2 separate regions of the Homo sapiens genome follow, and region 1 is linked to region 2. The links come from fine-mapping of genetic effects on gene expression. A gene starts in region 2. The other region holds a variant in brackets. All regions are shown on one strand. Distances are from middle to middle. Region 1 holds the start of LINC03001 (long intergenic non-protein coding RNA 3001). Region 2 holds the start of BAG2 (BAG cochaperone 2).

The links.
Region 1: its variant is fine-mapped to the expression of BAG2 in aorta (GTEx, PIP 0.99).

The regions. Positions count from the first base shown.
Region 1 is chr6:57,253,355-57,269,097 of GRCh38, reverse strand. LINC03001 (long intergenic non-protein coding RNA 3001) reads left to right here and starts at 5,752. Exons shown (of 3, transcript NR_109774.1): 1 at 5,752-5,795; 2 at 6,431-6,652; 3 at 7,381-8,574. It also overlaps a transcript of PRIM2 not described here. The variant C/T (reference allele first, on the strand shown) is at 6,998.
Region 2 is chr6:57,163,974-57,179,716 of GRCh38, reverse strand. BAG2 (BAG cochaperone 2) reads right to left here and starts at 7,391. Exons shown (of 3, transcript NM_004282.4): 1 at 6,907-7,391. The coding sequence starts at 7,019. ZNF451 (zinc finger protein 451) reads right to left here. Exons shown (of 15, transcript NM_001031623.3): 15 at 9,412-11,294. The coding sequence ends at 11,248. ZNF451-AS1 (ZNF451 regulatory antisense RNA 1) reads left to right here and starts at 7,504. Exons shown (of 4, transcript NR_110742.1): 1 at 7,504-7,643; 2 at 8,619-8,712. RefSeq lists an enhancer at 6,487-7,244 and silencers at 6,979-7,248, 7,299-7,378.

The DNA of each region.
Region 1 (15,743 bases), 89 kb before region 2:
ACATTTGTTTATTGCAGCACTATTCACAATAGCGAAGACTTGGAACCAACCCAAATGTCCAACAATGATAGACTGGATTAAGAAAATGTGGCACATATACACCATGGAATACTATGCAGCCATAAAAAATGATGAGTTCATGTCCTTTGTAGGGACATGGATGAAATTGGAAATTATCATTCTCAGTAAACTATCGCAAGGACAAAAAACCAAACACCGCATGTTCTCACTCATAGGTGGGAATTGAACAATGAGAACACATGGACACAGCAAGGGGAACATCACACTCTGGGGACTGTTGTGGGGTGGGGGGAGGGGGGAGGGATAGCATTAGGAGATATACCTAATGCTAAATGACGAGTTAATGGGTGCAGCACACCAACATGACACATGTATACATATGTAACAAACCTGCACGTTGTGCACATGTACCCTAAAACTTAAAGTATAATAATAATAAAATTAAAAATAAATAAGTAAATGTGGGGGGAAATTGCCATATATATATACATATATATCCTTGTAATGCCTCAGAACCTAGTGCATCAGAATTCTTTTTAAAACTCAATTAAAAAATATTGATTGTAATCTATTTTTCTACCAAGAATGTTAACCTTGGCTCTGAGATAGCATTTTTTTTCACCTTTTATGCATAGACATTTTGATGTCATGTGATATTTTAAAAGCCATATTAGTCTTCTCAATATATGAAGTCTTTACATCTTGAGGCTCAAGTTACAGAATATTTTCTGCCTTTAACTCTAACATTTAATATTCTTATATCCTACAGGAGGTCACAAAATGTTATACAGTAAAGTAATTGGAGCACCACCTGGTGGGCATTCTGGCTACATTCCTGACTTGAAGGGAACAAAATGTGGTTTTTTGAGACCAAGGAGGAATATGACTAGGAAGACATGTCTCCTCCCTTCCGCTGGAGACTGAAGTAACAACTACGTAACTCATAGAACCTTCCAACCACCTAATACTTTAGGAATGTGCTTGGAGCTCTTCTAAATCCATCTCACTTGAACTGCAAAGCCAGAAACAACAGCCATTATTCCTCTGAAGCCTGCAAAATGCTGAGTAGATTAAAAGGATTATGTTTCTGTTCTCATATGCTCAATGCCCATAGCTCAACAACCTTACTTTTACAAGAACCCAGCAACAATGATTTCATTTTGAATGAATCCACGATCTTCTCTGCAACATAGTTAAATGTAACCAGGCCAGGACGGTGGCTCACCCTTGTAATCCCAGCACTTTGGGAGGCCAAGGCGGGAGGGTCATTTGAGGCCAGGTTTTCGAGACCAGCATGTGCCACCATGCCTAGCTAATTTTAAAATTTTTTTGTAGAGATGGGGTGTCGCAATGTTGCCCAGGCTGGTCTTTAACTCCTGGCCTCAAGTGATCCTCCCGCCTCCGCCTCCCAAAGTGCTGGAATTACAAGTGTGAGCCACCGTGCATGTCAACCATTCTTATTTATTCTGCTTTTTATTTTCCTGGCTTCTCTTCAGCACTCTCAACCATTCTTTATAGCAATGCTCCCCAAATTTTTTCATGTGGTATTGCTCGTAGAAAGTGATAATATTAGTACAGTGCTGGACTAAATGGATGAGGTTGCTCAAAGGTTTTATGCAGCCTCTCAAAGAGATGCCACTGGGATTGAGCTCACTTGCCCAAGACAGTAACCCGCTTCTCAATGTATCCTTTAATGGTGTTCCTCTTTTGCCAGTCTTACTTGCCCACTCCCTGATCATGCCTCCTGGGATCACCTCCCAAGTAAACTACTTTCACCCAAATTCTTGTCCCATCACAGTAGATAATGAATACCAAAAAAATGGCAAAATGACAATAAAACTAATATCCAAGCAAAGTGGACCTTTGTGCATCAAGCTTTGCTCTAAAACATGTATCAACCTATTAGGTAAAGCAATGCATTGATTAATTAATGAAGGTAATTACTTAAATTCTGTGCTTCACTTTGCATGTGGAGGCACTGCATGCATTTTAAGAACATTTTTAGACTTATATCAAGACATTTGTCTTTCATACCTAAAGAACTAAGCTACAAAAGGTTTAATGACTTCCCACGTCACATCTTTAACAGTAAAAGTCAAAATAGTTAAAATTCATTGAGCATTCACTATATGCTGGATTCTGTGTGAAGTACTTTTCATCATTCCACTAATCATTTATTTTTAACTTTTTTTAACTATTTTTAATCATTTATTATTTTGGACGTTAAGATACCCACTCCACAAATGAGGAAACTGAGCTAAAAGAGATCGGTTCCAAATTGGCACTGATCAAAAATTAAAGAGAAAGCTTTGAACTAGCAAGTAGAGAGAAGCTGTGGCGACATAGACTATTTTTACACTACAAAATGTTATTCTAATAAAGTCTACATATACACTCAAAGTGAAGTAGAAGATCAGGACAGGTAATCAGATAATTCAAATGCGGCAAATTACTCTTTTTCACAGCAATTCATGAAAAACATATTTGGCTGAATTATCCACATGGTTAAATGAAATCTGCGCTATATGTTATATGTTTAACTAACCTTGAACTTGGTCTTAAACAAATCGTCACTTTGGTCAGCCCTATAAGCAACTGTGGTTGCAAAAAAATTGTCGAGCTGATTATTTGATTAGGTAAAATTGAAAACTCTGATATTTTTAGAGTTGACATTAACATTTCAGTAAAATGAATTCTTCATTCTTGACTCTGTAGGCCGTCTGGGTTTGTTTCCTAGAGACAGAGATGATATTTGCACCAAAAATCTAAATACAGAGAAACAATCTTGAGCAAATGGCCAAGTTTTCACATTGAGATGCTTAAACACATGAAGCTGCCCACATGAAACTGCTGTCATCTTCCATAAAGACTTGGTTTCTTTGTTTTATTTATGTTGACTCACATTGCAGCTACTTTATATTTAGAGTAAAATGGAAATTCTTCTGTATTCTACACAAAGCCAAGCAAATTGCAGTTTTCCTTTCGTTTCTGGGTGTCTTATTTGTTCAAGCTCTTTATAAATAGCCCTGAGCTTGGAAATTAGTTAAGTTTTGCTGTTTTTTCATTCTCCTTTTCTTATAGTTTAAAAATCAAACTGTCTGATTTTATTCTACTTTCATAAGACTGGGCAAGAAGCCCATTTCCTGTTAATGATGAGGTGACCATATTTTGACAGTACATTAAAGAATAGTTGGATGACATACTGGCAGGGGAAAGTCAATTGAGGAAAAAGTGTACTCAGATTTGGAAAATGAGTCAGTGTCTAGGAACCAACTGCATTTAACACACAAAATTTGCTCCAAATGAGCAAATTGAAAATCCTTTAAGAGAAGCTGCATAATAAATATGTCTAGAGTTGTCAGGCACAGAATTCTTTATAAAAAAATTCTGTTTAATTGCAGTGACATCAATTTCTGGGCTATCTATAGGATAAATTGATAGATTACTTAAACTAAAACACACAAATCAAATCACTAAATGCATTCACAACTTTTCCCTAGAATTGTCAAAGTCTACATGCCTAAGTGTGTTCTATTCTAGTAAGTGGTTGAGCGTCTACCGTAAACCAAAGTGTATGGAAAAATAACCCAAACCTTTGGAGGAACAAAATTAAAATGGCACATACCAACGTGGCAAGCTAGCAACAGATGCACCAGAGAGACTTTATATTAAAGAGCTGACTTGAAAAAGCTATTCAAGAAATCAAGATTTCTCCACTTCTTCAGCTTAATAATTAAAGTCATACTGTCCCTTCTCCTCCCCAAATAAAAGGTAAGAGTCGAATGAAAGAGGCTAACACAGACAACCTGATGGCCTTGAAAATACTGCATAATGGCCTGATCATTTGCCCACATGGTTCAGTAAAAAGGTCAAGTCATGTCTTCACCAGAGATTAAGCTGCTTCTCCATAGACATCCAGGTCAAAAGCAATCAGGACTATTAACAATCTAGTTGTTATTAATGATAACATATATAAACATTTTATAGCACTGTACAGCTTACAAATTGCTTTCACATACATTAATCACATGACCCTCATAACAATCCTATCAAGTAGGTAGAACATGTACTACTATTACTATTTTACGGAAGACATCACAATCCAATTCTCTAGATATCCCAGTTTTCTCTCCTCCACCCATTACTGAGTCTCAGTCTCCAAACTATACATTCTTAAAAGTTTTTGACGCCTTTAATCCCAGCCAATAAATGGGGACAAACAAGATCTGCCAGTGGGCAGATCACAAGGTCAAGAGATTGGAACCATCTTGGCCAAGATGGTGAAACCGTATATCTACTAAAAAATGCAAAAATTAACTGGGCTTGGTGGGGCGCACCTGTAGTCCCAGCTACTCAGGAGGCTGAGGCAGGAGAATCGCTTGAACTCAGGAGGGGGAGGTTGCCGTGAGCCAAGACTGTGCCACTGCACTCCAGCCTGGCAACAGAGTGAGGCTCCATCGCAAAAAAAAAAAAAAAAAAAAAGCGTTTGACTTTTACAAGTTTAAATCACCCCTCATCACATTGGTATTAGAGGGGTTGCAACTGTTTACCAGTGTATTCAATGATAAAATGATGGGGCTGGCTCTGTCATTATATTCTGTGAAATAATGGGTTGAGTATTTGAAGTGATGACGAGCACTCCAGGAACAATGAAAAGGAGAAGAAAAATCAGTGCGATAAATCAGGAGGCCAAAATAAATGCAGACCACTCCCCCGACGACAACCAGTTATTAAGCAAGAAAGCTACCACTAAAATGAAATTCATGGCTTGGTGTCATTATAAATACACACTAAAGAGGGCTTCAGGTACTGCACCACCCAACACTGCAGAAAACACTAAAATACTTCCATAGCAACTATCACTAAGGACATCATTAGGATGCTGAAAATGTAAAAGAGGAAAAAAGAGCCAATAAATGGGGACAAACAAGATTATTTCCCTGGTAGAGTAAAGCCCATTGTTCACTCTCAGAAGACATAAATATTTAACCACCCAAGGCAAGCTATAACCAGCTATTTCAGCTAGCCAAACCCATCTTCCTGATATATAGTGTTTTCAAAAAATAAATCAACCAAGGAGTTGAAACCCAAGGAACTCACAAATACATGTACCAGGCTGGTGGCAGCACGCTCTAGTCTGAAGGATTGATCATGAGTCAGGAGGGGAGGGTGCAAGCCTCAGCCCGGTCACTTAGTACCTATCAAACCTATTATGGGACATGTAGGTATTGTCAGGGACACAAAAGTGAATCAGAAACAGGTTTTGTCCTTGGGCTGTTCAGTGTTGTAGGGGGAGATAAAAGATAGATTACTATAAAATAAGCTAGATGTGATAGATGTCAAAAGAGAAATAAGATTGCTGCTATTCAATTTTAAAATCTTATTGCAGGGTGTTGTGGGTGGAATTGCACCCCCCAAGAAGGTATTTTGAAATCCCAACTCTCAGGATCCCAGAATGTGACTTCATTTGGAAACAGGGCCTTTGCAGATATAATCAAGTTAAATGAGGTTACTAGAGTGGGCCTCAATCCACTGTGACTGATGGCCTTATAAGGGAAGAGAATGCCACGTGGAAACAAAGACACACAGGGAGAAGATGACTGTGCAACATCAGAAGCAGAGATTTGAGTGAAGCGGCTCTAAGCCAGGGAACACCAAGGATTGCCAAGAGCCACCAGAAGCTGGGAAGGGGCAAGGAAGGACTCTCCCTACAGCCTTCAGAGAGAGGATGGCTCTATCAATGTCTTGATTTCAAACTTCCAGCCTCCAGAACTGTGAGAGAATAAATTTTTGTTGTTTTAAGCCAATTCTTGGTATATTATAACCATAGCCCTAAGAAGCAAATACAGAGGCAAAGAGTAACCTCATCCTACTGGGATTAGGGCCAGGTTTCTGGTAAGAAATGACACATAAATTGAACTTTGAAGAACTTATACTATCTAAATGGTAGGAAATGTGGTTTCCTATTTACGTGATAATAGTATTCATCAACCATTGAGAATCCACTTTGTGTCAGATATTGTACTAGGAGTCATTCATATATAAATGGATTGGACTCTGGCTCATATACAGAAGTCATCTAGACCTCACCTCCCTCCTTGACCATCCCACTTCCATCCCACAGTGGTTGATAAGTATAAAATGTTTAGTTTAGCAAATAGAAGAGGAAGATGGGTTTGGGGGTTGGGAGAGCTGTGGAGGGGAGAGGGGAAAAGGGCAAAGCATCTGTTCCCTTTCTGACCTCCTTCTAGAAAGACGGTGGAAGCAGGTTGCAGAACCTCTGTGAGTTGTTTTGTTTACATGTGAAATTAGCTGAGGAAATAGTCAAAGAGACTCTCAGAGGCTCTAGGCACAAGCCCAGCTATTTGGGGCTGAGCCAGGGAAGGACATTCTCCTCTCTGCACCACAGAGGCCAAATGGAGGCTTCCCAAGGACCAGACTCTTTGGGAACACTAAGAGGCAACACCCTTGGCATGTGCTGTGTTCTCATGATGGACAGTGACCCTGGAAAAGTTTCAGCCTCGGCAAAGCCTCAGCAAGTGGCCCTGCAAGCAGAAGCTGGACATGTGGGAGCTGGGGCAGAAGCAAAATAACAGGGCAGAAGACGATGGCAACTGTGAAAGAACGACTGGTGAGCAAGGGAACTTCTTTGGAAACTTCTAGAAATAACTGGAAATACTTTGAAGGGGGTTCATTTCTTTCAGTCGAGTAGGAAGGGGATTTACGCCATAAATAATCGGTATGTAAAAAAAAAGACAACTGGCAGATGAGGCCTGGAACACATGGGTCAGGCACGGATTTCTAATATATCCAACTGAAATTCATCATTATCCCCTTTCCACTTTACCAGCAAGAAAACGGAAGCTCAGGAGGTTAAATAACTTTCCCAGCCAGTAACTCTGTAAGTGACTGAATCAGAAATAAAACCATGTCTGTCTGCCAGTAAGTCCAGTATTCTTTCTACTATACCACACTG[C/T]TGATCTGGGCAACAGTGGGGAAAATATGACACTTGAAAGGAGCTTGGAAAAGAACACAGTAGGTCAGGATACTAGCCAGGGTTCTGGCAGAAAACAGAACTCAAGCCAAATTGTTCAAATGAAGGGACTTTAACAAAGATACTGCTGACATAGCTGTGGGCAGAATTAAGGGAATTAGCAAGGGATGTTGAGACACCCAGAGACCAGCAATAGAAGGAAACCACTCCTAGAGAGAGACCTGGTGAGAGCTGGTGAGACCTGGAGCCACGGAAGACAGACCACCAGCAGGATCTATAATGGTGGAGGGAGCCTTCCAGAGAGGTGGCTCCAAAGCAGGGAGGGAATGGGGAAAAATAACCCAACCTTTCCTTTTATCTCCCAGTCTCCTGCTGCTGCCACCCATTGGCTGTGCCCCCACCTGGAAACCAGCTATCAAGGGAGCCTGGGGCAATAAGTGGCAGGAATTAGAGACTCCTGGAAACAGAAGAGGAGGAAGACATTGCCATGGAGAGCAGAGAAGTTGAGGCCATGTGCTAGTCTTGTCCTGTTTTGCTCTTAGATTTATCCCCTGTCCCCGCTCTACCCTGTTCCGTATCACAGAGAATTACTTTTTCCTTGTTCCTTTGCCCTCTGGTTTCTGGGTCAGTTCAGCCATTGGATGGCCCTGAAGAGAGAGCAGAAAGGGAGAAGCTGGGTATTTTTCCCCACTTCTCTCAGCTTCAAGTATTGTCTCTGGCAGCGGCCATCTCTTCTATGGACCCAGCTCTTGCTCCAAGAGCTTCTGTGGTTCCAACTTCTCCCTGGTGGCCTGGCTCCTTTTGTCCCTTAAGCTTTAGGCAGTGGTAGCAGCTTCCTGCTCTTGATAATCTCAAGGATGCCTTACTCTCCCACTTTAGGCTTCTTACCTTTGTCATCTCCTGGTATTAAATCTCTTCTTTAAAATATCAAGAATATTTAGAATCCTGACTGATAGAGGAAACTATCACATGGGAGAGCCTCAACCTTCACAGAAAAGCATGAGGGAAATGAAAATACACATGGCTTGCATATCATAAATATGGAAAAACTTCCATTGAATCTGTCACTGCTGTGTGCCTATTCCCTCCTCTCACTGGGGCCTCCAATCCCTCAACCACCAGTGTTCTGGTCCACTTTTTAGCCTGGCTTGCCCTTCATACCCCTGGAGATCATGAACAGTCATATCCGCAATATTCTGTTAGAATTCTTGATTTTCCTGCTGACTTTTCCTTCTGCTGTAGCTATTTTATCAATCCCTATCCCTGAGTACAGTAAATTATCTATTTTCTCTCCTCCTGCTTTTTTTACTGGACAAAGGAACATGACCTGGCCAAAATTTCTTCTCCTGGGATGTTTGTCTGCCCGGCTACTTATATCCATTGTACCCATTTCCAACAACCATGCACCCATGGCTTTGCCCAGAGTCCCTGGAATCTTTTCAGGTTCATGTAAACTTAAAATTTATGCAAAGGAAATCCACCAAGGATTGGAGACCAAAAAACAAACGTATGACATCATGCTATAATTTCACACACACAGAATTATTTTAAAAATAGAATGGGTTCATAAAAATGAAATAAATTGCTGATATGTAAAACTCATCATAGAAAAATCAATGTTATTAAAATGGTTATTCATAAAATAATTCACCACATTTTTCACTTTAGAATACCAAACCCCCACCATGCATTTGGAATTTAATTCAATTTACAAAGTTTCCATTTGCCCACAACTCTTCAGGACCACATGCCTTTTCCAAGTCAAATATATTTCAAGGTCCAATATCAATGGTTTAGATATACATTAAGACATGTCAGACAGAGATTCTGTCTGCTCCACTATATGCTTTTGTTTTTGGACCTGGGATGCAGTTTAATCTACTTCTTAAATGCAAAGATGTGGTAGATTGCGTTATTGGTTTTGATTCTTTCCTATACTATATCTTTGCCCTTCACCATTGGCTTTGGAGTCCCTCTCATGTTGAAGGTTAGATTTCATAGAGTAATTATTGAGGAATGCTCTTGGAAACAGCCATTTTAAGGGAATAGGGGAAGCAAGATTGACACAGAAAAAAATGGGACTAATTTAATTGCAACCCAGGCCTCACCCAATCCTATGGGAAGCTCTGATGCTAGGATAGCTCTTCAGAGATGTCTTGAATTGAGGCAAGAGGTCAGACTTCATACTCACATCTGACTAGTCTTTGAATGTGGGTTGACCATAGGGGCACCCTTGGGCAAAGCAGTGCCCTTCAGCTGAGGACAATTCCTGGTGGGCAGTGGGATGGGGACTCCAGGGCGAGGGTGGAGGTGAAAGGATGGGAGTCAGTGGACTTGGTGAGCCATCATCAGCAAGCAATATTCCTAGCAGCTGAGAAAGTAAGTGCCTTGGTTCTGGAAAGGGACCAGGAAGTGCACCTCAGCATCCACTACACCCCACAAAGGTGAAGTATATCTCAGTTGGGCACAGTGGTGCACATTTGTAGTCCCAGCAATGCAGGATGATCCCTTGAGCCCAGGCATTTGAGTACAACCTAATCAACAGGCATACCCTTATCTCTTAAAAAAAAATGAGGTATGTCTCTTTGCTCTTTGACATTAGTCTCAGCCTTGTAACTTGCCTTGACGAACAGGATGAGGCAGAAATTAGTGTGCCAGTTCCAAGCCTAGGCCTTAAGAGACCTTGCATATTTCCAATTTTCTTCTTACACATGTCCAGGGCAACCTACTGGTCCCAGGAGGAAGATGAGAGGCATATAGAGCAGAGCTACCCCAGCCACCTAGCCTAGCCCAGCTTAAATCAGCCAACCCCCAAGATGACTCAAAGATACTACTGGTTTTGTGTGATGCGGTTTGTTATGCATTGATAGCAAGTCAATACAATAGGCTTGGACTCAAGAGTCAGATCTGTTTCAGTGCCATGTACTTCTGGCTTGTGACCTTCAAGAATTTTTCCAACCTTTCTTCTAAACCTGAGATTTATCCTTGGTATAGAAATAATCATGTCTGTTTTATGATGTTGCTATAATATATCCATGTGTTTGCCATGGTACATGGGAACTTAGAAGCACTGAATTACTGTAAGTTATGGTCAATATTTGTATATTTTATTTCTAGGTGCAAAAATCCTATAACTAGAAGATATTGGTGGCAAAGGGAAATAGCAAAGGATAGGTCAGTCTCCATTGCTTTCCCGTCCTTGAGGCTGCTCCTATCCTGCTGTCTGCCCTCCAAGAGTCCAGGTTCTGGGAGCGGAGGAGATGGTAGAGTTGAGTCTAGCAATTCTAGGGTACATTGGAGTATCAGCCTTCTGAGTTCTAGGACTATTGAGCCAAAGATAATATCAGATGGAACAGGGAAAAAAGAACAGGGGATAGATGCCCTTAGTCTTACACTGGCCTTTTTCTGTGGGTTCTAGGCTCTTGGGCTTTCTTAACTTTGCATAAGATGGTGTCCTAACAGGTCAAGAATGGCCTGCAGTGGAGGGGTGGGTGGGTTGGGGTGGGGGCTGGGGGGCCCTCACTGTGCAACCACTTCAAACATTACTGTAGGTGGAGAATTTTCACTCACTGAAATTCTACTGCCAAGTTTTGGCAGGGTGGTTGGCTTTTGTTCTCTTCCTTTTAAAGCTGACAAGGAAAAACAAAGTGCAGAAATAGTGTTAACCAAATAAAGAGACACTATGCCTTTTTTTTTTAAACCTCATTTGCGTCAGAAAATCCATTCCCAGATGAGCCATAACTAGATGAGACTACACATATCCCACATCTTAGAAGAGAAAGTTTTATGGGCAGCCCTCATACTTTACGGGTTCAAGCCATGGTTCTAAAGGGAGTTGCGACTGAAAATCTTCACGTCTCTACCTCCAAAATCTTAACGGTAGCACGCCACTCCCGATTGTTAGGTTATTTCGTTTTAAACATGGGTGAAACTCACAGTCGAATGTCTTGTTTCTTCACTTCCCAAATTCCTAAAACAGCTACTCTTTGTTTTTAATGGTGCTGGAAAAAAAAGAGACAGAGAAGAGAAAAAGGAAAACAGTGCATTCCTGAAACATTACAAAAGACCAGCCGATGAGAACCAAGTGCAGCATACTGGAGAGAATCCTGGGGAAGGACTAAGGCAGGGCTGCTCAAACTTTTGCTCTGAGACAACTTAACAAAAGAGGAGGACAAAATAATAACCCTTGGGATATCTAGAAATATAAATGAAAATGAAAATAGCTAACATTAGGGAGAATTCACTATGAACGACCCACTGTTCCAACATTTAACATATACTGGTCACTTAATTCTCATGATAACTCTATGAGGCAGATGATATTATTCCCATTTTACAAATGAGAAATGGAGACACAAAAAGGCTAAGCAACTTGCCCCAGGGTACAGTTAGAAAAGGGAGGAGCTAGGTTTCAGTCTTGCCCCAAAGCCTATGGTTTCAACCACAGGTTACCATGAGTAGTTTACCACCAGTTCAAAATTCCATTAAAGTTGTGCCTTAAAAATGCCTACAGTCTGGGCGCGATGGCTCACGCCTGTAATCCCAGCACTTTGGGAGGCCGAGGCGGGCAGATCACCTGAGGTCGGGAGTTCAAGACCAGCCTGACCAACATGGAGAAATCCTGTCTCTACTAAAAATACAAAATTAGCCGGGCTTGGTGGTGGGTGCCTGTAATCCCAGCTATTCAGGAGCCTGAGGCAGGAGAATCGCTTGAATCCAGCAGGTGGAGGTTGCGGTGAGCCGAGATTGCGCCATTGCACTCCAGCCTGGGCAACAAGAGCAAGACTCCATCTCACAAAAAAAAAAAAAAAATGCCTACAGATATTTTATTCTGTTTCATAATATTTTCTTTTTTCTTTTAAGATAAAAAATACTTCTTTCAAAGATTTTCATCTACATTTTTCAGTGTCCTGCTTCAACTTTCTCTTCAAGTAAATCTTCAAGGAGAACTCTTGCTTCAAGAAGATACACCAGTTGTTTCTTGTGTGCCCAGATTGAGAAGCACTGGCCCAGGGTGGCTAGCTGCCCCAAGAAAAACAAAAATACCTATGTGATATCTGTCAGAATTAATTTGGCCAATTAACCAAATAGATAAGAAAGATTAGGGTTTTTTTCCCCAATGTCAAGGCAACTGAAACTAAAGGGTTGTGGCTAAAATGGAATTGAACAAAATAGGTTAATTGAGTAATTTAGCAGTAGGTAGGAGACTAGACTAGCACATCAGTTAGATAGATGAAGTTCACCATGGCTACACTCAAAATAAGCATAAGCCTTGAAAATAAGGCAGAGCATCTGATAAGCAGGATATTTTTACTTTGGACTAAGATGTAAGAGTGTATGTGTGTGTGTGTGTGTGTGTGTGTGTGTGAAAGTGAGAGAAAGAGAAAGGAAAAACTGTGTGTGTGTGCCTGCATGGCATGTGTGTGTGTGTGTGTGTGTGTGTGTGTGTGTAAGAGAAAGAGAAAGAGAGAAAGAAAACTTGGAGAAGGAGCAAAAGTCTACTTTTGTTAGAAAAGATAACGCAATCCAATGGAGGAAAAGCACAGAATTTAGAGCCAATTAAACCATAAGTTAGAATATTATATCTAATGATTTATAATAATGTGACTTACGTTATTTTATCAAGTCTAAGACACCATAAATGATAACATGCATACACATTCCAATGATTTAAAGTATTTTTAAATTTGATCTTATAATGGAAGAAATACAATAACTATTCCCAATTGCAAAATGAAGATAATACATAATATAGCCCTGTAGGGTGATGGTGAGGGGTAAATAAGGTGGCATATGCCTGACATATGGTAGGGCCTCAGGAAATGCAAGTATTATTGTTTCTATCACCTTTGGCCAAAAACAAGTTAATTGTCTTTTTCCCCCAAGTAATATTTTATTTTTGCTGTTTTGCTGCACAATTTTACATTACAAAAGGTGTGGGTACTTACCTCATCACAACTGTAATCAGTATGCTGATGGATAAAGCAAGACAGTATTTATCCTTCCAAGACTTTTCTATGCTTGTACATCTAATGTGTGTGTGTGTGTGTGTGTGTGTATGTGTGTGTGTGTGCGTGTCTAAATTGCTTTTAAAAATTTGTTTACTCAGCATTTAAGCCCCCTTAGGGCATTTCACACTGCACTGTGTAATAGATAAAGAATCACACTAGAGGAGACATAATTCATTAATTCTCTTTTGAAAAGCGCTTGGTGCTATCAGTGAAATGAATATAAATTATGCCATTCCTATACTTAAGGGCTTAAAAAAGTCTAGTAGTGTCTTATTCATATTTGTATCTGCCATAATAGCCTTGAAGTTTTTTTATGATCATTCTAACTAGATGTTCTCTTTCCTGCCTTTACAAGTTCACGAATTTCTGTATTATGCTTATGATTTAAATGGGACATTGCTGTATATTGTGGTTATTTGTGTTTACATTCTTATCAACTTTATCACTCCCTCCCCAACCAGTGTAAAAATGGAGAAGGCAGGTTGTGGCAATGACCTAACATTGATCATTGGAAATAGGATGGAAATATAGGGATGCAAGTAAATTGAGAGTAATTCTTTTTTTTTTTTTTTTTGAGATAGAGTCCTGCTCTGTTGCCCAGGCTGGAGTGCAGTGGCGGGATCTCAGCTCACTGCAAGCTCTGCCTCCCGGGTTCACGCCATTCTCCTGCATCAGCCTCCCGAGTAGCTGGGACTACAGGTGCCCGCCACCATGCCTGGCTAATTTTTTGTATTTTTAGTAGAGACAGGGTTTCACTGTGTTAGCCAGGATGGTCTTGATCTCCTGACCTCGTGATCCGCCCGCCTCGGCCTCCCAGAGTGCTGGGATTACAGGTGTGCACCACCACACCCGGCCCAATGGAGAGTAATTCTAATAATCAACTATGGATCCTCGGCAGTATGGAGAAGGCCTAGAAGCCAAGAAGAGATCAAAAGGTGAATTAAATAAAGGAATTGAGGTGACCAAACTGTTTCCGGACCAAGCTGAGGGTCAGGCTGCCTATTCTCGCAGCCCAATAATGAGAGGCAGACGAACTGGGAAAGAAGACAGTTTATTTCTGTAACTGGGTACAGGGAAAAGGCCTGGAAAATATCGCCAGGCCAACTCAAAGTTACAAAGTTTTCCAGAGCTTATATACCTTCTAAGCTATATGTCTGTGTGTTAGTGTGCATTCATCTGAAGACATAAGTGATTAACTTCTTCTAATCTATAACTAAGATCTGAATCCTGAAGACCTTCCTCTGGAGCCTCGGTAAATTTACTTAATCCTAATGGGTCCAGGTGCTGGGTGATTACCCTTATCTTGTCTCCTGCTAAATCATGGAGGTTTGGGGAGTTTCTTCAGACCCCCAATAAACTTGTTTGTGGAGGTCTGGGGAGTTTCTTCAGACCTCCAATAAAACTTGTTTAATCCTAAACAGGCCTCTGTTAAGAATTCATTTGTTATCTTGTCACACTTCAAGGCCCAGGAAAGGCCTGAGCAAAACTCCTGGTGGGCTTTTGTTACATTCCAGCCTTTGTATAAGGGCACTAGCTCGATCAGCTTTTAATATTTAACTTGGCCACTCCGTCAGTGCTGAAACAGTTGTTACAGAGGCCTGTGTTAGTGAGACCCGGCCTGCCACAAAACTGTCCTTGTGCTCAAAGAGTAGGTGAAGTTGTGGTGAGGAAGTGTGAGAATTGGAAATAGTGGAAGTTAGGGTTATAGAGAAGTTGGAGTAGCAAAGGAAACAGTGGACTTGTTGCCATAATATCTTCCAAAAGTGTATATATGTGGCGACTGGGCTGTTAGTTGGAGAGTGCATGGTATAGGTTATTGCCAAGGGTTGCAAAGGAAGTTGAGCATTTTAATCAGTAATGAGGTAGAACAATGATTCTCAAAGTGTAGTTGCCAGGCCAGCAGCATGAATGTCACCTAGGAACTTGTTAGAAATGAAATTCTAGGCTCTACCCCAAACCCACTGAATCAGAAATGAGGATGGAGCTCAGAAATCTGTGTTTTCAGAAGCCCTCCAAATGATGATGTTCACTAAAGTTGGACAATTCTTGGTTTAGAAGTTGTAGTGCAGACAGCTGAGCAACAGCTCACCACCTACCCATCATCATCACCACAACATCATGACAACAATGTCTTTGGTAACCTGTGAGACTGGGATTTCAATTAAAGCCAAAAACTAGAAGGAGCATTAAGGCTAAGAAGCAAAAGGCAACTTTTCCACTTTCCAACTTTCTCTGGAGGAATAGAGGAATCTGTTTACAATAGCACAAGGGTTTCAGAGGCAGCCCTGAATGTTGATTCTCCTCCTATCCTAAGCCTTTGTGTGGGCTCAGTCTTCCTTGATAGAAACTAGAGACCAGAGAATATAGGGAGAGTAGTTAGTTGCATTAATAATTATATCAATATTTCATAATAACCATGATTACACTATTGATAGTTATACATATATATAATTAGTAACTATTAATCCAGGTTCAATCATGAAAACCACCAAGAGAACGAGCTCCATGATCTCAGTGCTGAAGGGTGGGAGCAGCCCTCTGCACAACTACAGTACCAGGTAGAACAGATATAGCCACATGGACTAATGATTTTCCAGTTTATCCTTAGACTTAACCAAAATCAGGCCAGTAGCATATTAACAAGCCCACAGTCCCCAAGAAGCATTAAAGTTTCTGAATTTAGTATAAACTTTCTGATTTATAGACCATAGTTTATA
Region 2 (15,743 bases):
TGTATATTTAACATGTTCTATACTTCCAGGGAACGTTGTTATTATGAATTACAGTAACTAAGATGCCAACTTTTGCAAAATGAAAGTGACAGACCTATTCCCAGTATTTGGATGGTCTTAGAAATACAAGTTCATGAAAGATCTAATCCTAACTGCTGTCTTAAGTGTGCACAGAAAGAACAACTTCACCAATGTTTTAGCACGTTCAATTCCATAAAAGGATCCTCTCCCTGCCCTAAGCACACACATGCCTTTTCCCCTTCGGTTACCCACCTGTTATACCCCAAAATAGTACTGACAGGCTGTAAAATCACAGGATATCTTTATTCTTCAAGATATTAAATATATGTCAAAGTGTGTTTATAAGAGCCAGTAAAAGCAAAGAACTGGGAAGAATCGCATGTGACAAATTTGGCTAGAGAACACAATCAAAATACAAATATTCTACTAACTAATAGTAATGCAAGTATCAGGCCCTATTCCAGGACCATTCAGTATTTACTTAAACATTTTACATTAGCAATCTCTCAGAAAGATAAACTAGGGCCCAGAACATAGGAAAGAGACGGAGTTGGCACTAAATATTTATGCTAAAAGCACAAACCATGACTCCAATATTTAGACAAATGACACAGGTGAATCATGTGATTGATAAATGAGAAGATGCTGAAAGAAGAGATTAATTTTTCAACACCTTTTCGGTTTGTATTCAATTGTAAGATGATAAGAGAGAACAATGCTATTCTGAAAAGGAAGGTTTCATTTATGAGTTACAGCAGTAAGTTCATGTTCTTAACAAAATAGATAAAAAAGACATTCTAGAAAAAATATAATAAGCCTGTCATATGACGAAAATATTTTATCATTAAATGAGACCAAATAGTTAGGTGGAACTGCTAAAGTTTGTGTTTTAGGGACCCTCCCCCACCCCCATCCCACAAGGCTTTTTTTAATACATAATAGAAATTACCAGGGCATTATCCCTGTGAAAACCAGATTTCATCATTTATAGAACTTCTTATATACATTTTTATGTATACCTTTTTCATTTCATGCAAGGGTAAAATGTCATTCTTCAAAATGTAAAGATCTCAGGGTTTATTTGGCAACATGGGCTTTTCATGTCCTATTCCCTCTTCAGGTAGCATTCTTTCTCCCTGACCCTTGTCTACTGGGATCACCTTTTTCAAAACCCAATTGCTTCAGCAGGAATTGTTTCCTTAGCTTCCCCCTTCCTCTCCCTTAAGGCAATTCATGCTCCTTTTGGCCCTGGTACATCCATTTACTCTACAGTCTAAAATATGTCTACCTCATATTTTACATTTTTTCTTTTAAAAAGCTGAACCTAGATCTCTACTTAGTTTAAGTAACGTTTGTACTGTTTGTCAGCTATTGCTATCCTTAAACTCATATACACGTCTTTTGTCTACAATTTTTCCATTAGTTCTAGAAAATTCTTGGCTGTTGTATCTTTGAATATTCCCTGTCTCCCCTTCTGTTATTTTCGTCTGGAACTCTGGTTAGAGAAATGTTGGACCATCTCACTTTATCCTTCATGTTTCTTAATATCTCATCTGGCAACACTTCTGGCGGAGAAGGGCAGTTCTGTTTTTACTAACAGATCCCGGAAGCAGCTACACGTCCAAATTGGGAAAGAACTTTTCCTCACATCAAGGCTGGCCTGGGCTGTGCTCCTGGAAAACTCCCTGCATGAAATCACAACTAAGTAGGCTTTGACAAAAAGAAATTTTAGTCAGAGTACTCAGTAGGAAGACAAAACCGGAGCGCATGCATCCTCAGCTAGTACCCAGGTCTTGGGCACCTCACAAACCTCTGCAGTCTCAGTATCGAAACGGCAAACTGCTGGGAGACTTAGGAGGAGTACAACAGCAATTTTGCGCAAACTGTGGCTACTATTAATATGTCAGCTAATAGAGTATGCAGTGAAAACTGCGCCAGCACTGCCACTACTAGCTGTGCAAATGGGTCAGTCGCCTATGAAACAGGGATGATAAGGGAACAGTGCTTGTGACTAAATGAAGTAAAGCAGGTAGAGTTTAACAGTGACTGATAGCACTGACTAAAAAAATTACACACACACACAAGTTAATATGTATAATGTGTCTAGAATTGGCACTGGCATATATTTATAGTATTAATAGCTATTATATTCTTACCATTATGAATGTGGGCTTATTTATTAATGATGAAAATTTGTGCTTTCATAAAAAGGAGGGAAAATGGCAAATGCTCATACCATGATTTGAAAGAAATAATTTCTAAAACAGGTTTGTTTTTTTTGAGATGGAGTCTCACTCTGTCGTCCAGGCCGGAGTGCAGTGGTGTGATCTCAGCTCACTGCAACCTCCACCTCCAGGGTTCAAGTGATTCTCCTGCCTCAGCCTCCCGAGTGGCTAGGACTACAGACATGCGCCACCACGTCTGGCTAACTTTTGAATTTTTTATTAGAGATGGTTTTCACCATGTTGGACAGGCTGGTCTCAAACTCCTGACCTCAGGTGATCTGCCCACCTCAGCCTCCCAAAGTGCTGGGATTACAGGAGTGAGCCACCACGCCTGGCCTAAAACAGGTTCTTAAAACTCATAGTTCTGTCTCTTATTCCATACTCCTATATCAAAAGAATGCTATAATGATCACTTTTAGGCAATGTAAAATTCTGAAGTGTTTTCCTAATCACCAAAATGTTAAATTACATTTACTGTCAAGACATTTTGGTGTAAAAGAAGGGACTAGTGTTTTTAGTGTGAAGAGCCACTTTTCAGTAGCATGTCCTCAGGCAAGCCACTTCATCCTAATTGGACCTCACTTCCCTCATTTCTAGGAGAGAGAGTATGTGCCCTCCACCTAACTCGAAGGGTTCTTAAAGTTTCAAATAACATATATGAAGTGTTCTTTTAAATTACAGGCTGTCACACAGTATTAACTATGATGCCATCTTGTTTTGTGACTCCTAGAACACTGGCACACCCTAACATGAAACTTTAAGCCAGACGAATGATCCCTATCACCCCCAACCCCATCCCTTCACTACCTGGGTGCAGGTTAAGCCACAGTGAAAGGCTGACAGGAAGGCAGAAGGAGCCACTGTGTTATAAGTTTTGGGAAACATATGAAAAGCCAATCTCCCAGTCCTATCATTTTCCCCTCTGCCAGTCTCCAAAACCCATCCCCCAAACATCTTCATTACCATCTTGAGCTTTCTAGGAGCTACCCAATACCTAACACATAGTGGGTGTTCAATATCCACTGAATTAAAGGCCAATTTAGATTGAATTTTTATCTCTTAGAGGAAGCTCATCTATTCATCCATATATCATTTCTATATTTTGAAATGTGATATATTTAAGAAAATTCAGGCATAAAGTATTAGAGCCTGGAGAGCCAGTCTTCCTGGGTTCAAATTTGGAGTTTACTACTCTCTAGTTGTGTGACTTTGGACAAGTCATTTAAGCTTCTAAGCCTCAATTTCCCTATCTGTAGAATGGTGATAATAGTAACAACGACATGGGGCCTGGCACATAGTCCGTGTACATTAAATGAATAAACATTAGCCTGTGTTTTAGAAAAAACTCTCACACTGTGTTTTTCCTCTGCTCTCACACTGTAACAACACAGAAGGCTGTGACCAAATATGTGGGGGATTTGCAGCTAAGTATCCCCCAACTCAGTTCCAACACTCCCTACACCTGGAGACGGTATCAGATCCCACAAGTTGAAAGCTCAGTCCCCAAGACCCCACCCTCCACCGTTGCAAGTCTAGGCCTCCAGAACTTCTGACCAACTGGCTTCAAATTGGGGTTCCCATGTCCCCCTCTTTGGGTTTAACTTGCTGCAGCAGCTCACAAAATTCAGGGAAACACTTACTTATATTTACGGATTTATTATAAAGGGTATTACAAAGGACATGGATAAAGAGATGTGTAGGGTGAGGTACAGGGGGAAGGGGCACACCACCTTCCAGGAGCCTCCACATGTCCAGCTATCCAGAAGCTCTCCAAACCCTGTCCTTTTTGGGTTCTTATGGAGGCTTGCTTCTTTTATATAAGCATGAATGACAACCATGTAGAAAAGTGATTGGACAAAAAGAGTATGCCCTCACTCTAACAGACTGAATGGGGAAACCCAGCAAGGCCAGTCTATTCAGATTCTTCTTGGCCTCTGGGTGCTAAATGCCCTCCTCCAGGGCATAGGGCAGGACCCTCTCTGGAACGAGAGTCTTTTGACCCACAATCAGACTAGAGGTAAGGCAGGTGAAAGAAGGTCAGAGAGAGAGATTCTTTTTCCTGAGGCCTAAAGCACCCCAACATTATAACGTAAGACTGTAATAAGGGTTATGGGAGTTATGAGCCAGGAACTATAACATAAGACTGTAACAAGGGTTATGGGAGTTATGAGCCAGGAAAACGTTGTATATATACAGAGAGAGAGAATCGTAATATCATAGTATTTTTTACAAATTACAATAATTGTTAAAAAGTAACAATAGTAAGCAAGATGGTTTGAGCCACTGAAGAATGCAAAACTCAGAGTCCATTTAGAACTGATCGTCAAAACGGAGAAAAGGGAATCACCTCTGTAGAAGGAAGAAATACAGAAGACAAAATGCAGTCCAAAAAAAAGGGCTACTGTATTGATAAATTCCATTAGAGATAAATGGAAATCCTTTAACAGTTTGTAAAACTGCTGCCAAACATTTTAAACATCATGTAGATCAGTTCATACTCCAGGTCATAAAGTATGAAATTTCTTCCACAATTGACAGGATCAGTGTGGTTAGGGAACATTAAGTGCACACTTCTAAGTACAAACTATAAGGTTTTATTCTACACAGTTACACTACTTTATTAGTCAACAAAATCAAACTATTAGAGCAAAATTACATATGAGTTTCATGTTTTCTTTTAAAAATCGATCTTCTACGCATGATTCTAGTTTTTAATAGTGTTCAGTGCCATTGCCCATGTGGTTTCAAAAAAAACTTTAATAGGATCTACATTAGCATTTTTCTCTATTTTTGCTTACCTTCGGAAATCCTTCCTTTTCAGCTAGTATTACTTTTTTAAAAAGAAGAAAAAAGGCCTACAAAAGTCCAGAATTACTAAAAAAAAGTCCTTGAAATGAACAGCCACATATTAATCACTTTTCTCCTCAGCTCAAATGTTAATTAAGCAAGTTGTAATTTAATCACTGATGTGCAATCAGAATTCATTTTACATTAATCAAACAGTAGAATATAATAATATTCAAAACCTGAGGCTTTCTTTTAAAGAGGAGCACTTCAGAGTGCTTTTGTACCTACCACATGTGAGGCATTAATTCAAGTTGGAGGACAATGACTCAGCTTGAAGGAAGGCGGAGTGGAGTAACAACCTCCCCATTCCTTTAGGAAAACTTTTCTTTCTGGCTAAGGGAGAGGAGAATGAAGTGGTTGAGAACATGCCCTCAACGTTCTGAAGACATGGAGAGATGTGTGTTACTTGTTATGTGGCTCCCTAAAAAGAAACATTACCAGTTAGAGGGACTTCAAGTAACTGAGGCCACCAATTTCTACTTTCGCTCTACTTTTTCTGGGAGTGGAACGGTCAGGTTTGCCAGTATTGTGAAAATCCATGAGGAAGCATTACTTCTCTCTTCCACTTGCCTCATTCTGAGTGGAACCCCAGAACCTGGTGTAGGGCTTAATAATCCAAGAAATTATTTTGAGTGGAGAATCTCTCACTCTCTGGCTCTTTTCTCCCAATAGTAACAATAATAATGCCTCACTTGTTAAGAGATACCGTGGTTATTGAAGTATTTTCTCAGCAAACAGATACTTCATGTTTGGGTGTATTAATGTAGGAAGATAAAGACACACATGCAGTGTTTCCTAAACTTTTTGGCTCACATGCTTCTTTGCTCATGCACAACCTAGACAAAACTATGTAACCAACTCCTGTGTACAGTTTCACGGAATTGCAGGTGCCTAACAAGATTTTCTTTTAACTACACCTGCTCACAAAATTTACACAGTAACTTGAGACAAACGTTCACAGGAAGTAGATAAAACTTTTCAATACACCGTTAAAGTCTTTCCAAAAATCTATTAACATTAAATTGTTTAGAAATTCTATACAAGTCTACTACTGTATTACCAAATAAATTCTTAAGCAAGAAAAGGGGAAAACTATCTTTTCATGCTTTCAGGCCAGTAACTAGCACTTAGTCTTCTATGTAGGGAGGTGCCCAATAAATACCGAGAGACGAACGGAACCGCTGAATCCCGTCCGCGAGGTTAGGGGAGAAACAGAAGCGGCAACGTCTCTGCTGCACGAAGCACCCGGTAACTTACTGCCTACCCCTCACTCCTGTCTAATCTTTGCTCTCAATGGATTGCTGGGTTGGTTTTGTTTTATTCATTTTTGTTCTGAAGCAAGGAAACTTAACTTCACGTGGAGGGCCACTGTAAACTGCTGCCTCCCTTAAAAAATGCATAACGAGAAGAGTAAGTTAAAACGTTTGGGGCCACACAGAAGGTTCTAGAAGTTCTGCAGACCCAAGCTGCCACAGTCCTTAATCGCATGGAATCTCACTGTAACTTTTATCTCCTCTGATTTTTTTCCGCTCCCTAACACCTAGGTAAATTAATCAAAGTGTGGCCACCGATAACGCCCTCACAGGTTTAGCTTAAATCGAATGCGTTTTCTCTCGGACTAGGGGAGATAATCCAAGAAACAAACAAAACTACACCACGTCCATCCACAACAAATCTCAACAAGCAACTTCGGTTGCCGCAGCCTCACTGTGCCCCAGGCCCCGGCCCGCCACACGCGGCCTCCGTCCGCTAACCGCCCGCGAACCGCCCGCGCGGCGAGCAGAACGCCCGAGACCGCCCGCCCGGAGCTCACCTGAGCTCCAGCTGGTCCAGGCTCTCCAGCAGGCGGCTGGAGCGGTCAGCCATGGAGGAGGAGCGGCAGAAGCGCCCCTCGTTGGCTTTAGCGTTGATCTTCGCCTGAGCCATCTAAGCCTCCGACGCGGGGTAGCCAAGAGGTCACCGGCCCCTCCGGCGGCAGCGAGTGGAGCGCTCCTTGGGCTGCAGGCGTCGCCGTCACCACGCGGGCGCCCGCCCTCCCTCTGACGCCCGCGGGGGCAACCCGGGAGGACTCGCCGACACCGCGGCTGCAGCGTAGCCAAAGAAGGGCAGGCGCGGCGCCCGCGGGGCTCGGGGACGCCGGGCCTGGGAGGGGGCTGCAGCGGCTGGAGTTAGAGGTTCGCGAGCCACACGGGCTCGAGGATGGGCCGACAGGGGCTCGGGCCTGGGGAGCGCAAGTCTCTGAGGCACGGGAGGGGCGGACGCAGAGACCGAGCGCCTAATGTGGCTAGCGGATCGTCTGCTCCCCGGACCCAGGAACTACCCGAAGCCCGCGCGGACCCACAGACCACCCCCAGCTCCGCCCCGCGAGGCCCCGCCTCTTCATGCAACCTAAAAGTAACCAACTCCCCCCACGCGAAGGTTCCTATCGGTCGACGGGCTGTGGGTGTATTGCTCAGTGACGGCTTCGTTTAGTTTCTCCCAGCACCCATAATTCAAAGCAAGAACAACGACATTATGGGGAGAAAACGTCCTTTTGTGAAACAGAAGGCAGTAAGTACAGCTCGTAGGCAGCCCACACTCACCTGACCTTCCTGTTACCACTTTATACTGAGATGAGAGTAATGAAAGCCCGGACAACACTGAAGCTATGAAGTAAAAAAGAAAAAGCTACTCCATCTTTCCCTGTCTAGCTAGATGTGGGAAGCAAAGTGAATTTACTTCATTTTTACCATTCTAATTTTCTTTTGTTTTTGAGATGGGGTCTAACTGTCGCCCACGTTGGAGTGTAGTGGCGCGATCACGACTTACTGCAGCCTCGACCTCCCGGGTTCAAGCGGTCCTCCCACCTCAGCCTCCCAAAGTGCTGGGATTACAGATGTGAACCACCACGCCTGGCTTAATGAAGGGGTTTTAAATTTTTGCTATTAAAATTATTCCTGTTGAGCGAGCCGAGATCTCGCCACTGCACTCCAGCCTGGGCGATAGAGCGAGACCTTGTCTCAAAAAAATAAATAAATAAATAAATATTCTGAGTGAAATAATTGGCATTAAAAAGTCCTCAACTTTTAAAAATCCTGTTAACAAAAAAGATGCAGTAGGCCTCTAGGTCAGGCACCAGCTGTCGGTAAAAGACGGAATAGAGCTGAGGATACAAAGATTAGTCTACTTAAAAAGTTAGGCTTTAGTCCCCTCTCCTGATAGCTCTATGCCTCTCATTGCAAGGATGACAATGTACAGGGCACAGAAAATGATAGATAATAATAGTTTAAAGCTGAGCCACCACCTTTAATCAGAGATCAAAGCCATTTAAATACTTGAACAGAGTTGAAGCCCTTAAGGCTGGATCCCAATTCCCTCTGAACTCATTTTAAATCCTAATTAACTCTTGGGGTAGGGGATTATTTGACCTTATTAAAAATAACTTTATCATGACACAAACGAAAACAAAACACATTTTGTGAGTGGTTTGAAAGTCTATCAAGTGACTTTAGAATCATCCTGAACTCTTTTTCTCTCTTATCCTAGATCCACACCATTAGTAAACCCCATCAATTTTGCCTTCAGAATATATCCAGATTCTTCCCAATTCTACCGCCACCATTCTGGTTCAAGCTACCTGGTGAGTTTGCACCTGGAATACTACAATACCTTCCTCTCTGGTCTCCCTGCTTCTACTCTTGCCTCTCATGTACATGTTATCTCAGTGCAGCAACTACAGCAATCCTAAATAAGGCAGATCATACCATTTATTCTCAGAAACCTTCACTGGCTCCTTACCTCAAAGTAAAAGCCCAGGTCATTAGAAAAACCTCAGTAAGTTCATTTCCTATTACTCTCCTAGCTCATCCTGTCAGCCATACTAGTCTTCTTGCTTTTCCTTGAATATACTAAGCTCCTGTCTGGACCTTAACCTCCTCCACCTGGAACTCTCTTCCCGATATGTATTTTCATCCTCATTCCCTCACCTTCTTCAGGTCTTTGCTCAAGTTTACCTATCAGTGAGATCTTTTCTGACAACCCTATTAAAAATAGCAAGCCTCCCCCCAACTCCCTGTCCCTGCACTATTTATTCCCTTCCCTTCTTTATTTTCCGTCGTTACACGTATCACCATCAGATATGCAGTTTTATTGCCTTGCTTACTAACATTGTACAATCCCCTCCTCTCCACCAATATGTGCTCCACAGAGGGGTAAGGGCTTTGTTTTGCTTACTGGTATATTCCAAGTGCTTAGAACAGTTGCTGGCACATGGTGGGTACTCAATATTTTGTGATTGAATGAATTAATGAGTGAATGATGTAATGAAAAGATAAGCATCTTTGTCAATGTTAGAAACATTTACTTCTGACGATAATCCATATAGCTTTCTCTGATGTTACACAGCGATTACATCTCCTTGTGTCTAAATTAAAGTCAAAGTATGAATTTTAAGATGATTTTTAATTATTTAACAAGTAGAAATACGATCAGTGACAATTATCAATTAAAACATTAAACAACCCAGTTACCTTTTCTTAACAGTCATGATGAAATATCCCTTTCCTGTCTTATCAGAAGCCTTAATTATTCTCTACCACACACACCACAAAAGCTTCTTAATAGAGCATCAGTGTCCATCACACCTTTGTGTAGAATCTCTGGCAACAAGGTGCTGTCTCCTCTTGCCCTGCCCCCACATCTGCTTAACTACTCTTCTTTCTGGAATGCCTCTTTTGCTCCCATTTTGTGAGCTCCTGCAGATGTGTTTAAGGTCCAGCTCAGTGACTACCTCCTAGAGCCTTGCTTGACCACTTAAACATACAAACTAAAAGCACAATGTGGTCATTTCGGAAAGATGATTGATAAATTCTCAAGCCACAATGTCTAGTTTTTAAAAAATGCAAGCAGGGAGGAACAGAAGTGACATATCAAGAAATTAAAAACACAAATTATAGATTGAAAAGACTATAGTAATAAAAAAATTCAATTTCACACTAAAATATTTAGTGTTACAGAGAAGGAACCAAATTCTAGCCTTTATATTTTGTCTTAAATATAAAGAAAAGCTTTATATTTATAGAAATGTTTTTAAGTTTGGTAAATAATTACTACTAAAAATTTTTAGAGATAAGACATTTCTGGTTAAATAACATGAAGCATATACACAAAGATAATATGACAAGCCCTTCTTAGTCTTCTACTTATGTCGTATTTTTTATTACTCACAATGGGGCCTCAATATTTAAGAATTAAATATGTAATACCAAATGAAGGAAACTGACAATTCAGTGAATAACTAAACTGAAAACACTTCACATGAAATAAAAATTTAAAGAGTTAAGGAAGATTATTCCTGAGTAGGCTTTCAACATTATTTCTTGAAGAATATTATGTTTACACCAATATATAAAAAAGGACTGTTATGAAAAATAATTTTATGCAAATATTCTGACACCATTCCCTTTAACCAGGAGACCATACAAGTCACATAAAAGTCTAAGCAGGTAAAAGGAATGGAAATTGTTTCATTTAAATTATTTCTTAAAAATTAAGGTGTATTTTTTATTTTAGCAATGTGCTGCTCTAATTAAAGCAATAATTTACATATGCATGGCACCCACAAAGAACATTGCTGATAAAATTTTAAATGTTTCCATGATCAGTTTCCATTACCCTCTTCTAATAAACATAAACAAAGATCTCAAAGGTATTATATAATAGTGCCACATGAGAAGTAGAATTTATGGAAAACTTGACCTATGTCACCTTTTTTATATTCATTTTCACTGCTAAAAAAATAAACTAGCATCATTTGTACAGTACAAATAAAATTAAAGAACTAATGCTATTTGGGAAACAACTGTCAAGAGCTTTCCTTTTTTTTAATCCTTTAAATCTAAATATATAAATTCAAAGTTAACTGGGAAACTGTTACACCTATATTAGAATACATAATTTATATTTGCATGAACATGTATTCTATTTCTTCTGTACATGTTTGCACATTAGCACAAAAATACAAAACAAAGATCAGATTTTGAACATATGAAAGCAAAAACATGTTTTCAAATACATTTGTAATAGTGGATTTCTGGTCTCCTTTAGAAAACAAACTCAAGAATTCGTTATCTCAGTCTCTTCAAGGCCACTTGATGTTGTGTGGTAATATCTTTAATTACATTTCCTCAAGACTTCTTCTAATAGCTTCTTCTAATTCCACATCTGCATTAAAAAACATAGAATTTTAACACTTAGGGCAGAAAACTCAACATGTGCTGTATTTATTTAAGTTTCATCGACTGTATTCTTTTCAAGAAGGAAAGTAAAATCAAAATGGAAAAACACAGGATAACTTGGCAGTTTCTCTACTAAAAAATTGAGTATTTTGAAATATGAAAATCTAGACATGATCTTGAATTGAATTTTATATATGAACTTAGAACTTGCAAGTTAATTCCACTTAGGAATGTAGAAAGTCAACAAACTTTTAAAATCACTGACAGGTAATCATTTGTTTCAACATTTAAAAAAAAATCTGTATCACTTATTTGCTAAAAGACTTGAGGTGATACATATAAGACTTTAAACAGAAAGGCAACTCCATGAAATGACAAAATGTCACAGGCCATTAAAAATTTAGTTTAATTTTTAATTATACCTCAATAAAGCTGGGGAAAAATTAGCTTAAAGCATCCTAGCATCTAAGGTAGTGAAACTCATAGCCACATAAATGTCATCTGAGAAGCATATAATATATGCTGTATGCAGATGTATGTAAACTCATTTGACAAATATTTATTGAATGCCCATTATATACCAGGAACAGCAATGTAATAGTGAACAAGACAGACGTTATTGGGTTCACAATAGTTGAGTTCCATCTCCTCCTTGGGAATGATGCTAAAATCCAGGAGGGTGAAATTTGGTGTCAATTTCTTGGCCTTCACTAGCTTCTCACACCAGATTTATCTCATCCCATCTGGTCCACAGTCTCTCAGAGGCTACTTGGCTACAGGCACCAGTGATCTCCCTAAGATGCAACCGCATGTTCCTCTGATTGGGGGCACTAGTGTTATGTTGTCTAATTTAAAGTACAATAAACTAGCATGAACTGTGTATCAAGTTAAAGCTACACTCTAGGATCAGTTAGTTGCCCTTAAGATGAATTAAAAGGGATGAGGAAATGCAAAGAAAAGCCAAGACACTCTTACCAAAGAAAAACAAGGGGACAAGACTTGTCTAAGATATGAACACTTATTATAAAGTTACAGTAACTAATAATGTGCTACTAGTGCAAGAATAAATAGACCAAAGGAACAGCATAGACAGCTCAGAAACAGACCCATGCATATATGGACACTGGATTTATAACAAAGGTAGCACTGCAGAATGACAGGGAAAGGTCTTTTTAACAAATGATAGTAGGTTATATGTATATATGTGTGTGTGTGTGTGTGTGTGTATATATATACGAAATCACAACGTCTGTTTTACAATTAAAGTTATAAAAATCTTTGAACTAAAATTCAAAATTTGAAGTATGGTTTATACTAAATGCATATTGCTTTCACATCCTTATAAAGTAAAAAAATCATAAATCAAACCATCATTAAGTACAGCAACATCTATACAAAGATATCATACCTCCAGTGAGCTTATAGGGATTAAACTTGCCAGCTGAAAGACTATAAAAAACAAAAAGCAAGTATGGTCATGTGCTGCGTATCAACTTTTGGTAAACAGTGGATCACATATACAACAGTGGTCCCATAAGATTATAATAGACCTGAAAAATTCCTATTGCCTAATTATGTCATAGCCATCTTCATGTTGCAGTGCAACATATTACTCATGTGTTTGTGGTGATGCTGCTGTAAACAAATACACTATGTTGCCAGTTGTATAAAAGTACAGCACATACAATTATGTACAGTACATAACACTTGAAAATTATAATAAACTCTGGTACTGGTTTATGTATTTACTATACTTTTTATTATTATTTTAGAGGGTACTGCTACTTATAAAAGTGATATTGATGATCCTGACTCTGTGCAGGTCTAAGCTAATATATATGTGTTTGTGTCTTAGTTTTTAACAAAAAAGTTTTAAAAGTAATAAAACAATTTAAAAGTAGGGAAAAGCTTATAGAATAAGGATATAAAGAAAATATTTCTCTATAGCTGTACAAAGTGTTTGTGTTTTAAGTGTTATTACAATAGAGACAAAAAGTTAAAAATTTTAAAGTTTATACAAGTTACAGTAAGCTAAGGTGAACTGATTACTGAAGAAAAAAAAATTTTTTTAAATGTAGTATAGGCCAGGCACAGTGGCTCATGTCTTAATCCGAGTACTTTGGAAGGCCAAGGTGGGCGGATCACCTGAGGTCAGTAGTTCGAGACCAGCCTGGCCAACATGGAGAAACCCCATCTCTACCAAAAATACAAAAATTAGGCGGGCGTGGTGGCACATGCCTATAATCCCAGCTACTTGGGAGGCTGAGGTGGGAGAATCGCTTAAACCTGGGAGGCGGAGGTTGCAGTGAGCCAAGATCACACAACTGCACTCCAGCCTGGGCAACAGAGGAAGACTCCGTCTCAAAAAAAAAAAAAGTAGTATAGCCTAATCGTACAGTGTTTATAAAATCTACAGTAGAGTACAGTAACATCCTAGACCTTCACATTCACTCACCACTCACTCACTGACTCACCCAGAGCAACTTCCCCATCCTGCAAGCTCCATTCAGGGTAAGTACCTTATACAGGTATACCATTTTTTATGTATTTTTATGTCTCTATGTTTAGATACAAAAATATTTACCATTATGTTACAATGTCTACAGTATTCAGCACAATAACATGCTATACAGGTTTGTAGACTAGGAGCAACAGGCTACATGATATAGCATGGGTGACAAAGACTTTAAGCCAACTGTCTTATGTATGTTCAAAGAACTAAAGGAAACCAGGAAAAAAATGTATGAACAAAATTAAGAGTACCAATAATGAGGCAGAATTATTAAAAGCCCATCAAATAGAAACTCAGGAACTGAAAAGTACAATAACTAAAATGAAAAATCTTTAGAGGGGCTTAATGAATTTGAGTACAAAGAAGAGTCAGCAAATTTAAAGATAGTATAATTTAAATTATCCAGTGTGTGTCTTGGTTTGAGTTCAGTCTAAATCAATCAATCAATCAATCAATCATCCAGTATGAGGAACAGAAAGAAAAATGAAGAAAAGTAAACAGAGTCCAAGGGACCTGTGGGACATCATCAAGTGAACTAACATATGCATTACAGGAGTCTCAAGAGGGGAAGTGCAATAGGATCAGAAAGAATGTTTGAAGAAATAATGGTTGAAAAACTCCCAAATTTGATGAAAGAGGTGAATCTACATATCCAAGAAGCTCAATGAACTCTAAAGAGACCCACACTGAGACGTGTTATAGTCAAACTGTCAAAAGCCAAAGACAATGAAAACAACAAGAGAGAAACAACTCATCACATACAAGAGAGCCTTAATAAAATTACTAGCTGATTTCTTATAAAAAACCATGGAGACCAGAAAATAAGAATGTCGATCAAGAATTCTATATCTGACAAAACTATTCCTAAAGAAATTCTCAGATAAACAAAAGCTACAGAATTTACTAGTAGACCTGCCCTACAAGAAATGCTAAAGAGAATCTCTCAGATTGAAATTAAAGGACATCAGACAGTAACTTGAAGCCATATGAAAAAATAAAGAGCAATTGTGAAAAATCTGTCTTTGTTTTTCTATTCTGTGGCTAGCTCTGTGTTCCCCTTACCATTCTTTCTGCCTTAATTTCATTTACTTTGAGAGCAGTAATTATGGCAAACAAACAACAAAAACAACCAGTAGTAGGAGGTAGAAGACATATAGAAATGGTTCCCAATCATTTTAAAACTGTGGATGTAAGGCCAAATTACTTAATGTTTAGAAGCCTCAGTTTTCATATAAAATGAAGAGAATAGTCTGACTCTCACAAGTTGTTAAGATTAAGAGCAGTTTTGACTGCTATTAATTGAAGGAATTCTCAGAATAAGGCATATTGCTAACATTTACAGAAAGATGGTTTTGCAAAGAAAATTATCTATATAATGCTGTCCTCTGTCTCTTCCAGCAATTTGAGTCAGAATACCTCTAGTTAACAGACATACCTCTAGAGTAGACCTTAGATGAACATATAAGTAAATAATGGCATAATGATCATCATAATCCCAGTAACATTAGCAGCAACCAATATATACTATTTATCATATGTCATGTTATTCTAGTAAGGTAGGTATACTAATATTCCCATATTTAAGAGGAGGAAGCTGAAGCACAGTGAAGTTAAGTGACTTGTCCAATATTACACAACTTGTAAGCAGCAGAGTTTTAACTTAGGCAGTATGAATCCAAAGACTGTACTTTTCACCACCACATTATGCGGCATCTGTTTCCTCTGTCAAGTACAAGGAACTAGATTATATGGGATTGTTATGACTGGCCTGCGTGGTCAGAGTTTGATATTGGTCTATGAGGAACAACAAAGAATAACACAAATCATGGAAGGAGGGAATTACCCTAAGGCAAAAAGCCATAAGCAGATTTATCCTGTCTTCTGCCACTATTTCTCAGGCATTTACAGAGTTGTACTGGGAAA